4 separate regions of the Homo sapiens genome follow, and regions 1, 3 and 4 are each linked to region 2. The links come from fine-mapping of genetic effects on gene expression. A gene starts in region 2. Each other region holds a variant in brackets. All regions are shown on one strand. Distances are between the middles of the regions. Region 1 has its middle 29 kb from the start of MYO1G. Region 2 holds the start of MYO1G (myosin IG). Region 3 has its middle 17 kb from the start of TBRG4. Region 4 overlaps CCM2 (CCM2 scaffold protein).

Region 1 (2,687 bases), 29 kb before region 2:
AACATAATCTGTCACTAACAATACTCTAACCACACCCAATCCCCAAATTAGCATTAATTCTAAACCCTAACACTAAGCCTAACCCAAATGTAATTTAATCCTAACCTGAACTTCAAACCCAAAACTAACCCTAACCTTAAATCTAACCCTAAACTAACTGTAACCCTAACTAACTCCAGCTCTGAGAATCAACTTTACCTCAACTCTACCCCATTAACCTAAACACTAACGATATCCTTAACTCCAACCCTAAGTCTAAAGGTAATCCTCATACCAACCAAATATTAAGCCTAACCATAATCATAAATATAATCATATTGCCAAAACTAATCCAAATTTAACTCTAACACCAAATTTAGCCCTAACCCAATACTAATTCTAACTCTAATATTTGAACTAACCCCAAATATTACCTTATTATAGTCATGAACTTCATCAAATTGCCAACTCTAATCCTAACTCCAACACTGTCGTTAACCTTCAATTTAACTGTTAATAGTATCACTAAACCTCAGCACTAATCTTTACCCTCATATTAACTCTATCATTAAGCAAACCCTGGATTAACAAAACTCCTATGTAAACCCTTACTCTAATTCTAATTCTAACCCCAACTCGTCAACTAAAAACAACTCTAGTCCTAATGCTCATTTTAATAACCCTAAGCCCGGTGCCAACTCTAGCACTAAATTTATCCTGAAACCTAATACTAACCCCAAAACAAGAAACAGAGCTCTAATTTGAATAAATAATCCAATTCGAAATCTGTCACTGTTTTTTTTTTCTTTTTTTGAGACAGAGTCTCGCCCTGTCACCCAGGCTGGAGGGCAATGGTGTGATCTCGGCTCACTACAAGCTCCAGCTCCCTGGTTCAAATGATTCTCCTGCCTCAGCTTCCTGAATAGCTGAGATTACAGGTGCCCGGCACCACACCCAGGTATTTTTTGTATTTTTAGTAGAGACAGGGTTTCACCATGTTGGCCAGGATGGTCTTGAACAGCTGACCCCGTGATCTGCCCTCCTTGGCCTCCCAAAGTGCTGGGATTACAGGAGTGAGCCACTGCACCCGGCCACTGTTTTTATATTTTACTGTCTAATCAGATTCAAAGACCTGTGTCATCTGACAGGCACATTTCCCCCTAATTTGCTATGAATATTAAAATTCTAAAGAGAAATCATGTGACGGTTTTCAGAGAGATTGGTGTCTATTCCAATAAGGCCCCTTCTCTGACACCTGGATCTCATTACCAGATCCTAGGCTGTTTCTTGTCATTTCTGGAACTTGTCCTGAGTATTTGCAGAGTTGGTCAGACTTTGGGGGAGTAACTCATACTAACCCAAACCTATCAGACAAATGTATAATGCAAATCACCAATGTATTGTGAGTGTGGAGTTGTATACAAAATGGACAACCAGCCCATTTGTACAACTAGAACTCTGAAGTACAGCCTGCAGCCACCTACCCAGGAAAACAACATTTTCTTTTTTTTTCTGAGACAGAGTCTTACT[C/T]TGTTGCCCAGGCTGGAGTTCAGTGGCGCGATCTCGGCTCACTGCAACCTCCGCCTCCCGGGTTCAATCAATTCTCCTGCCTCAGCCTCCTGAGTATCTGGGATTACAGGCGTCCGCCACCATGCCCGGCTAATTTTTGTATTTTTAGTAGAGATGGGGTTTCACCATGTTGGCCAGACTGGTCTTGAACTCCTGGGTGCAAGTGATCCACCTGCCTCAACCTCCCAAAGTTCTGGGATTGCAGGCGTGAGGCACCGAGCCCAGCCACAACCTCTTTTATCTACAGTAACCAGCCTGGGGTGCCAACCTGCTATAAGTCAAACTTGCAGGAAGCCAGGTGCTATCTCTAGTGACAATCTAGGAAGCTAGTAATTGGCACTGTGGCTCACACCTGTAATCCCAGCACTTTGGGAGGCTGAGGAGGAGGATCTCTTGAGACCAGGAGTTCAAGGCAAGCCTGGGCAACATAGCGAGACCCCATCTCCACAAAAAATTTAAAAATTAGCCAGGTGTGGTGGTGCTCATCTGTACTCCCAGCTACTGAGAAGGCTGAGGCAGGAAGATCACATGAGCCTGGAAATTCAAGGTTACAATAAGCTATGATTCTGTCACTGCACTCCAGCCTGGGCAACAGGACAAGCCCTGTCTCAAAAAAAAATTAGCATCTTAACAATTTTCAAGTGCACAGTTCAGTGGTGTTAAGTACATTCACATTGATGTGCAATCACTACATCCATCTCCAGAACTTTTTCATCTTCCCAAACTGAATTTCTGTCCCCATTAAACACTAACTCCCCATTTCCCTTCCCCCAGCCCCTGGCAGCCACCATTCTACTTTCTGTCTGTATTAATTTGATGACTCCAGGTTCCTCATATAAGTGGAATCAGACAGGATTTCTTTTTGTGACTGGCTTATTTCACTTAGCATAATGTCCTCAGGGTTCATCCATATTGTAGCATGTGTCAGAATATTCATCCTTTTTAAGGCTGAATAATATTCCACTGCGTGTATATACCACATTTTGTTGGTCCATTCATCCATCAATGGACACTTGGCTTGCTTCCACTTTTTAACTATTGTGAATAATGCTGCTATACGTATGGATGTACAAATGTCTCCTCAAGATCCCTTTCAACTCTTTTATACATATACCCAGAATTGGGATTGCTGGATCATA
Region 2 (2,687 bases):
TCTTGACCCTTTCCTTCACAAACCTGGTCCCCAGTGGGGGTGGATGTCTGCCCTTCTCTTGACCTTTCTGCCCCTGGGAGGAGGACTGGCAGGCCTGCCCCTCAGACCCATCTCCCCTTGGTGTGTGGTACCCACCCTTCCCTGGATGGCCCTGTCTCCCGGCAGCCTGTCCTGGGTGGGCCTGTCCTGAGGTTCCTCTTTCTCCACCACCTCTGACATGGGTTTTCCTGGGCCTAGCTCCCATCCTCCTACAAGCTGGGGATGAGGGCACAAGTCACCCACGTCTCCAGGGCTCAGTGTTCTCCTCATCAAAATAGAGAGGACAATGTTTCATAAGCTCATTTTATAAGAATGAGGTAGAACAATGTGCACAAAGTGCTTAGCTCACGTCCTGGCTAGCCCTCCTCTTTGAGCCAGGCTCGTGGTCTCTTGCCTTCGGTGCTTAGTGGGGATCCTGGTCCCCAAGCTCTCCCCAGGGAGCTTCCGGAGTACACAGCGAGTGGCCTTCTGCCCCTCCCTGGGAGTCCTGGCAGGAAGCCCAGCTGCCTGTATGGCCACCCTACTGTGCCATGCCCCTACCTCCCGGGCTTCTCCCTGCCCTCCACCTGCCCTCCTTGATGGTAAATTGGGCTCCAATATCACTTCTACCAACTGTGTCCTGTGATACTCCATGTACCCCAGGAGAATGTCACCTCAACTTGGTGGGAATGTTTGGACCCTAGGGTGGAGCCTGACTGCTTCATCTCAGTGTCCCCAGGGCTCAGGCCAGGCCCCATGGATGAGATGCATCGAGGGAGCATCAACAACTGGCTGGGAAGTGGCTGGAGGGAGGTGCCCCTGGTCCCTCCTGGAAAGATAGTGCCTGGTATGTATCTGTCCAAGAAGTGTCATGCCCTGGCCCCGTCGGGCAGGAAAGAAGGGGCAGAAGATGCCTGGACTGTGTGGGAGGCAGGGGTGGGTTGAGGTGGTGGGCAGCTCCGGTGCTGACTTGCCAGCCCTGACAGGGACAGTTGCCTCCTTGTCTGTTCCTGTCCCCTGGGGCCGTGCTTTGAGGCACTCATTTCAGCCCCATCTGGTCTGGGTGGGTGTGTGCCACTGCCCCCTCCCTTGGACAGCAGCGTGCCTTCCTCTTTCCCTCAGGTCTCTGCGAGGACGCAAGGTGGGAGACCCTGGAGGAGGGGAGCCACTGCCTCCTGCCCTGGGCCTACCTGAGCTGCAGGTTCCTCATGAAGTCCTCCATGGTCACTTGGTCCAAAAGCACAAAGTCAGGTTTGCCATACTCAGGGCCTTCCTCGTCCTCCATCCTGCCGGCTGGAAACACCTTGCCTCACCTTCCTGTGCCTGCTGGAAGGACAGTGAAGGAGAGGGGGAGGGAAGGCTAGGGGAGGCCCCACCGCCCCCGCCCTGCCCCACCAGCCTCCTCCAGTGCTGGTGTAAAGTAGGAAGTGGGTTCTAGTCCTGGGAGGGGCTGCCCTCCGCACTTGCCACTCCTTCCCCCTCGAGGTGCTCTAAACCCTGCTTCCTGTCCCTGCGCCCCACAAGGAGGCTGTGCCTAACGGTCTGACCCGTTTGCACGCCAGGGGCGAGGGGCCGGATGCTGGGTCCTCCCCGCTTTGGAGGGTTCTTCGCTGGCCTCCTTCGGAAGCTCCCCTCCACCCACAAGCAGGAGACAAGACTCCGTGGGTTGGCTTCCAACCCTGGCAGCACGTTAGAGTCACTTGTGGGACTTTAAAGAAAGATTTTTTGACGTGATCTTGGTTACCTGGCTGTGTGTGTCTCTCAAGTCAGAACTGAACACTAGATGCAATATACTGTATGTACATTGTACATTAATACAAAAATGAAAAAGGATCCTAATGCCCAGGCCTTTGGGGTGGGGGCAACAGCCTTCTTTGCAGTGTGAAGGCCACACTGGGGTGTAGACGAGCAAAGCTTCTTGTGTGACCTGCCAAGGGCCAGTGGTCCTAGCACTGCAATTCCCCACCCCAGCCACGGGGGAGGGACAGAGGACCCCAGAGCATCCTCTGCATGGGGCTGGCCTTCAGTGGGACCCCTGTGCCCCTAACTGTCCTCTGCCTTGTACTTGTGTCCAGCCGATCCCCCATAAACTGCAGTGAGGACCAGGAACATGCCTGGAGCCCTGTGGCCTCATCTCAGAGCTGCTGTCCCTGCACTTTGAAGATGAGGCAGCGCATTTGGGGAGCGGCTGCATTTAGGGAGTGGCCAAAATCTCCAGACACTGCATTCCTGACACTTAGTGCTCCTGGAAGAAGTGGGAGGGGTGCAGTTCTCTTAGCTTCCAGGCAGACTGGAAAAAGTTCTTTTTCATCCCAGGACAGACTGGGGCAGGTCACACCCATCCTCTAGGAACACTGGGGCGATTCTCTCATCAAAGGTCAAATGGATGCAGTTCTCTCTCATCCTACAAATAGACTGGTGACATTTCTCTTTCACCCCTTCCCTCATACAGGGAGGTCAAAGGGCAGACTCCAGAATTCCCAAACTTCAGTCATTCATGTGCTGCCTTTGAGATTTGTTGTACTCATAAGCACTAGTTTAACTATTGTCTTTCAGTCATCCCATTTTTTAAACTTTGAAGTAATGGATAGGCAAGTTAAGTTTATTTTTTTCTCTCGAATACCTTAAAGCAAATGCATTCCTGATAAAACTGAAAGTACTTATTCAAG
Region 3 (2,687 bases), 150 kb after region 2:
CTTAAAACTTCCCCTGGGACCCTCTGCTACTGAACATCGGGATGTTCCAGCCCAGAATGTCCTGCTACTTTGGCGGAGCTGTAATGTGCCTCCTGTACGTGCCCATGGCATGACATGGCTCCATCACGGCCCTTATAGTCCCTCTGCAAAGCAGTGGGCCTCAACCCAGGCCCTTCCTGGGGTAGCCAGCATGGACACTCTGGCCATGGTGACTTGCCACCTCTTGTGCCTCTCCATGGCTTGAAGTTTACCCAATGCTTCACGTAGGCTGTTCCACCTTCCCGGGAAGGGAGCTACACACACACCAGAGACCTGGTGGAGTCCAGGGCTTGGGGAAGTGAAGGTGGCAAGGCCGTGATTGTTTACTGGCAGGCCTTGGTGGCCCTTTTCTCTGTCTCTGTCCGTTCCTACCTACATCATGAGTGGATTTGGCTAGAAGATCTGAGTCCTTCTGTCGCCGATGCTGGGTCTGAGGTGAGAGCTGACCCATCCATCCCAAGAACTCAGATCCCTGGCCACAGACTCACACTGTGAGCGCCCTCCCCCTGCCCCCCACCCCACACCTAGTCCCTTCTTCCTTGACAGCACAGAGGGGCACTTCCTTCACCAGCATTTCCCATCTCCACAGGGTGCCCCCAGAGCTAGCTATGCCATTTTCAGGGCACCTTGTTCAACAAATGGAAAAAAAGTACTGGTAAAGGTACTAGAATAAAAAAGTATTTTTCTCTTCCACAGTCTCTCTGTACTTGTCATGATGCTTTTCACAATGTGTCAATTTAAGTAAATGAAAATAAAAATTTCTTATTATGAACATGAGTATCAGCAGTCATTTTTATGTTGTACAATGCCAATTCAAAGGCAAACACAAGAGCATTGAGCTCTTAGGCAGAATCACCCAATCACACAATTCTTACCTTGTAGCTCACATGGGCACACATATACAACAGTGCAAACGCTGCACAAAACTAACTCAACTGGTTTTGTTCCACTTATTTTTTTCTCATTTCTTTTTATTTAATATTTTTGGATCCATCTGTTGTTCTGAGGAAACAGCTTCCTCTTAAGCAGTTTTACTCTTCTGACACAAGGAACTGGTTGACTGAATGTGTCAGATTAAACTTTCCCTCCATTACATCAAACCTGCTGTAACCAATGTTGTGGCCAGACACTCTTAGCACCCTAGGTCTGCTTTGCCTCTTATGGCCATTCATATCTATATGAACTTGTATATTAATAAGGATAAAAAGTTGCATTCTTTATTTTTATCTTATTTTAATAAGATAAAAATATTTAATTTAATTTAATTTTTTTTTTTTTTTGAGACAGAGTCTTGCTCTGTCACCCAGGCTGGAGTGCTGTGGCACAACTCCGGCTCACTGCAACCTCTGCCTCCTGGGTTTAAGCGATTCTCATGCCTCAGTCTCCTGAGTAGTGGGACTACAGGTGCTTGCCACCAAGCCCGGCTGATTTTTTTGTATTTTTAGTAGAGATGGGGCTT[C/T]GCCATGTTGGCCAGGCTGGTCTTGAACTCCTGACCTCAAGTGATCCGCCTACCTCGGCCTCCCAAAGTGCTGGGATTACAGGCATGAGCCACCGCACCCAGCCCTATTTTAATTTTTTATTGAGATGTAATTCACATGCCGTCAGATTCACCCCCAATTGTAAAGTGTACAATTGAGTGTTTTTTAGTACATCCAAAACGTCATACAACCTCCACCTCTAATTCCAGAACATTCCATCACCCTAAAAAGAAACCTAGTACCCACTATCAGTTACTTTCTATTTCCTTCCGTCCCCAGCCTCTGGCAACTGCCAATTGACTTTCTGTCTCTGTGGATTTGCCTATTCTGGACATTTCATGGAGATGAAATCATAGAACGTGTGACCTGCTGTGCCTGACTTATCTCACGGAGCGTGGCTGCTGAGGTTCATCATGTTGTAGCACGTGTCGGTGCTTCACCCTGTTTATGTACCATAGTATTCCTTGGTGTGCATGCACACACTCTGTTGGTCCATTCATCTATTGATGGACATTGGGCTGTCTCCACCTTTTGGCCCCCGTGAGGAGTACCGCTGTGAGCACTGGTGATTTCACCTGTTGACATGTACATGCCCTGCCAAGGCTCTCCTTCTCTGGCTACCGGACAAGCAAGGAAGGCACTTGGCTACTGTCTTCCCCTTTCCTGCTGTGCTGTCCTTTTCAGAGTAACTGGCTGGCTCCTACGGGAATAAGGCAGGCAGGAAAGGGCCGGCAGGGCTCCTGGGCTGCTCGTGTTTCTCAGAGACCCGTCGCATCCTTCTGTGGCTCCAGCCTGTCGGGAAGCCAGGGCCCCACTCCGTCTGTGCCTTTCTGGGACCTGTGCACATGGGATGGCCAGGCCTGCTGCACATGTGGGTCACATGTGTGTTTGTTCCATTGTCCCACCAGACTTCACTTACTAGCACATATGTTGACAGGTGAAATTAAGGATTTCAAGGCATAAGAGCAGAATGTTGAACCAAGCTTAGGGACACATGGTTGTGTGGGCTGCTGGCATGAAGTGGCACACACCTGGAGCCCCTGATTTACCCGCTGTCTTGGCTGCCCCCAGGGGTCCCAAAGACCCTCTGTCCCTGGCCCCTACTCCCCAGCTCTGCTCTAACTCTGACGTCTCAAGTCCCACAGAGGCTAGGCCCTGCCACAGCCTGAC
Region 4 (2,687 bases), 57 kb after region 2:
AATCTCGGCTCACTGCAACCTCCGCTTCCCCGGTTCAAGCAATTCTCCTGCCTCAGCCTCCCAAGTAGCTGGGATTACAGGCGCCCGCCACCACACCCAGCTAATTTTTGTTATTTTTAGTAGAGACGGAGTTTCACCATCTTGGCCAGGCTGGTCTCTTAACTCCTGACCTCAAGTGATCTGCCTGCCTCACCCTCCCAAAGTGCTGGGATTACAGGTGTGAGCCACTGCACCCAGCTTCTGGAAGCATTTTTAAAAAGTTTTTATTTTTCTTGAGACAAGGTCTCACTCTGTTGCCCAGGCTGGAGTGCAATGGCATGATCACAGCTTACCGCAGCCTTGACCTACCGGGCTCAAGCAACCTCCTGCCTCAGCCTCCCAAGTAGCTGGTACTACATGCGTGAACCACCACACCTGGCTAATTTTTGTAGTTTTTGTAGAGATGGGGTCCCACCAGGTTGCCGGGCTGGTCTTGAATCCCTGAGCTCAACAATCTACCCACCTCGGCCTCCCAAAAGTGTTGGGATTATAGGCGTGAGCCGCTGCACCCAGCCTGGGAGCACTTTCTGTCCCCTCTGTGGTTCGTCTTAGAGCGGATCATCTTGTAAGGATGTTGGTGATCTTAATTTTTTATGCTTTTATATTTTGCCTCAGTTTAAGTGTAATCAGCAGGAAGCAGAAAATATATTCATCATTTTCAAAAAATATTTAAAAATTCAAATATTAAAAAAATACAGAGAAAAGTTAACAAAGCTACTGTATACATCATCTGGCTCCAACTGTTACCAACTCTGAGGACCTTTAGTCATCCTTACTCCATGCTCTCCCCTACCACCGGATGTACTGAGCAGCAGAGAATGGGACCTGGGAGGGGGCCTATTCCAGGTCAAAGGGGAGAGACTACTCCTGGTCAACGGGGAACTACTCTGGGTCTATGAGAGGACTAGTTCAGGTAGATGAGGGACTACTCCAGGTCAATGGGGAACCACTCTGGGTCAAGGGAAGACTATTCCAGGTCGGGCAAGGGGAGCTATTCCAGGTGAAGAAGGCGGATGCAGGGGTGGGTCCAGTCAGCCCAAGTGAGAGAGGAAGCATTTTAGCAGATTATAGGGCTTTAAGCCTGGGTCACAGGTGTGTCACCTGTTGGGGGCACGAATGAAGAGCTTAGGCTGTGATGCTGGTCCAACTTTATTATAGTCTGTGGTAGTGATGAGTAGGAGACAGTCTGATTATATACATATATACATATATATATATATGTATAGACAGCAGTGGAAGAAGAGATAAATTTTAACTTATTGTCAAGGTAAATACAGTCATAAAATTAACTG[G/A]TATATATTTTGCTTGTTCACAACATATCAGACGTGCTCAGAACTTTATGTAGATTATTGTATTGATTGCCTGTGGCACTTCTCTAAGGATTGTTAGCCTGTTGTGCAGATGGTGAGAGCTCATCCAACCAGTTTGCTTAGTAAGTGGTGCAGCCCAATGCATGCCGGAGCAGAGATCATGCCTAGGACCTGAGGAACATCTATCTTTACTGGTAGAAGAAAGAGAGCTGGCAAAGGGTGCGTGAGATGCAGGAAACACAGGGGACAGAGTGACAGAGGCGTGGTGGCAGCGTTAGTGCACTTCTCTGGAAGCAAGACTTTCTGTTGTGTTTTTTGTTTTCGTTTTTATTGAAAGAGCTTCCTGATTCCATGTCTGTTTTAGTGGGTGAATGGAATAAAAACCCAGCTATGAAAGGGTGAAATAAATAAAGGTAAGAAGGAAGCTGAGGAGCAGAAAGCTCAGCCTTGGCTGTCAGGAGGCAGCAGGGTCAGGAAAAATGTTGGGTTTTGCTCTTTGAGGATTTGTTTTATTTGGGGTGGCTTTTGTTTGCTTATTTACTTTTCCCGCTAATGCTGGAGAGCTGAGCATGATGGTGGTGGTGGGGAGGGGCTCATACAGGGCAGGGTCCAACCCCAGCCTCATTAGGGAGGCAGCTGCAGGGCCTGCTGGGAGCCACTGGACGACCAATTTCTGCTTTTTTCAGGAGTGGTTACTGAATAGTGTAGTCCTTGGCTGCAATTGTCTGTGAAATTGGTGGGTTTGAGGAGGTGTCCTTATAGGACCACAGGTTCTGCTACACCGTTTTATATTGGATTTTGCATATGGGTGAATTTCCCATATGCTGGAGAGAGACAGAAATGAGAGCTTTTAATGAAAGTTTGGTGGTTTATTGTATATATGTTTTGTTAGTTTCTGTGTTTGGTGATAAGGGGGGTCTGAGCTTGGCCTACTGTGGGGGTTTCGGCTGCCATCTGTGCACTGGGTCACCCTATCCTGGCAGGCACCTGCAAAAGGAGTGTTGTCATCTCCTCCTGCGTTTCCTCTGTTGAGAGTTATGGAGGAGATGGTGGGGAATAAGTTCTCACTCTTAGTCACGGCTCTGGTTTTTGCAGGCCTGCGTGATGTTTCCTTGCTGCGGCTGCACATCAGTGTCTTGTTTTCTCGGGTTTATGTTCCTTTGGGTGACTGTAGATAGGGATTGTAGCATGATCTCTCAGCACAATTTGGGATTGCTTCCCCCCAGACCCCCACCCCCCGCCGCCATTGTCAAAGGTGGTGATGAAAAGCTTTCTTACGGAGTTATTGTGAATGAAGTGTCAGGTCTTTTCCTGGGTTCTGCAGGCGAGGCTTGCTGT

The links. PIP is the estimated chance that this variant, and not a neighbour inherited with it, causes the effect.
Region 1: its variant is fine-mapped to the expression of MYO1G in whole blood (TOPMed, PIP above 0.99).
Region 3: its variant is fine-mapped to the expression of MYO1G in whole blood (TOPMed, PIP 0.97).
Region 4: its variant is fine-mapped to the expression of MYO1G in whole blood (INTERVAL, PIP above 0.99).

Annotation. Positions count from the first base shown.
Region 1 is chr7:44,948,242-44,950,928 of GRCh38, forward strand. No RefSeq gene overlaps it. Among named protein-coding and RNA genes, the nearest start is that of MYO1G, 29 kb to the right of the region's middle. The variant C/T (reference allele first, on the strand shown) is at 1,510.
Region 2 is chr7:44,977,659-44,980,345 of GRCh38, forward strand. MYO1G (myosin IG) reads right to left here and starts at 1,357. Exons shown (of 22, transcript NM_033054.3): 1 at 1,209-1,357. The coding sequence starts at 1,303. RefSeq lists a silencer at 1,300-1,389 and enhancers at 1,590-1,659, 1,690-1,739.
Region 3 is chr7:45,127,309-45,129,995 of GRCh38, forward strand. No RefSeq gene overlaps it. Among named protein-coding and RNA genes, the nearest start is that of TBRG4, 17 kb to the left of the region's middle. The variant C/T (reference allele first, on the strand shown) is at 1,499.
Region 4 is chr7:45,034,582-45,037,268 of GRCh38, forward strand. All of the region lies in intron 1 of CCM2 (CCM2 scaffold protein), which reads left to right. Among named protein-coding and RNA genes, the nearest start is that of CCM2, 36 kb to the left of the region's middle. The variant G/A (reference allele first, on the strand shown) is at 1,332.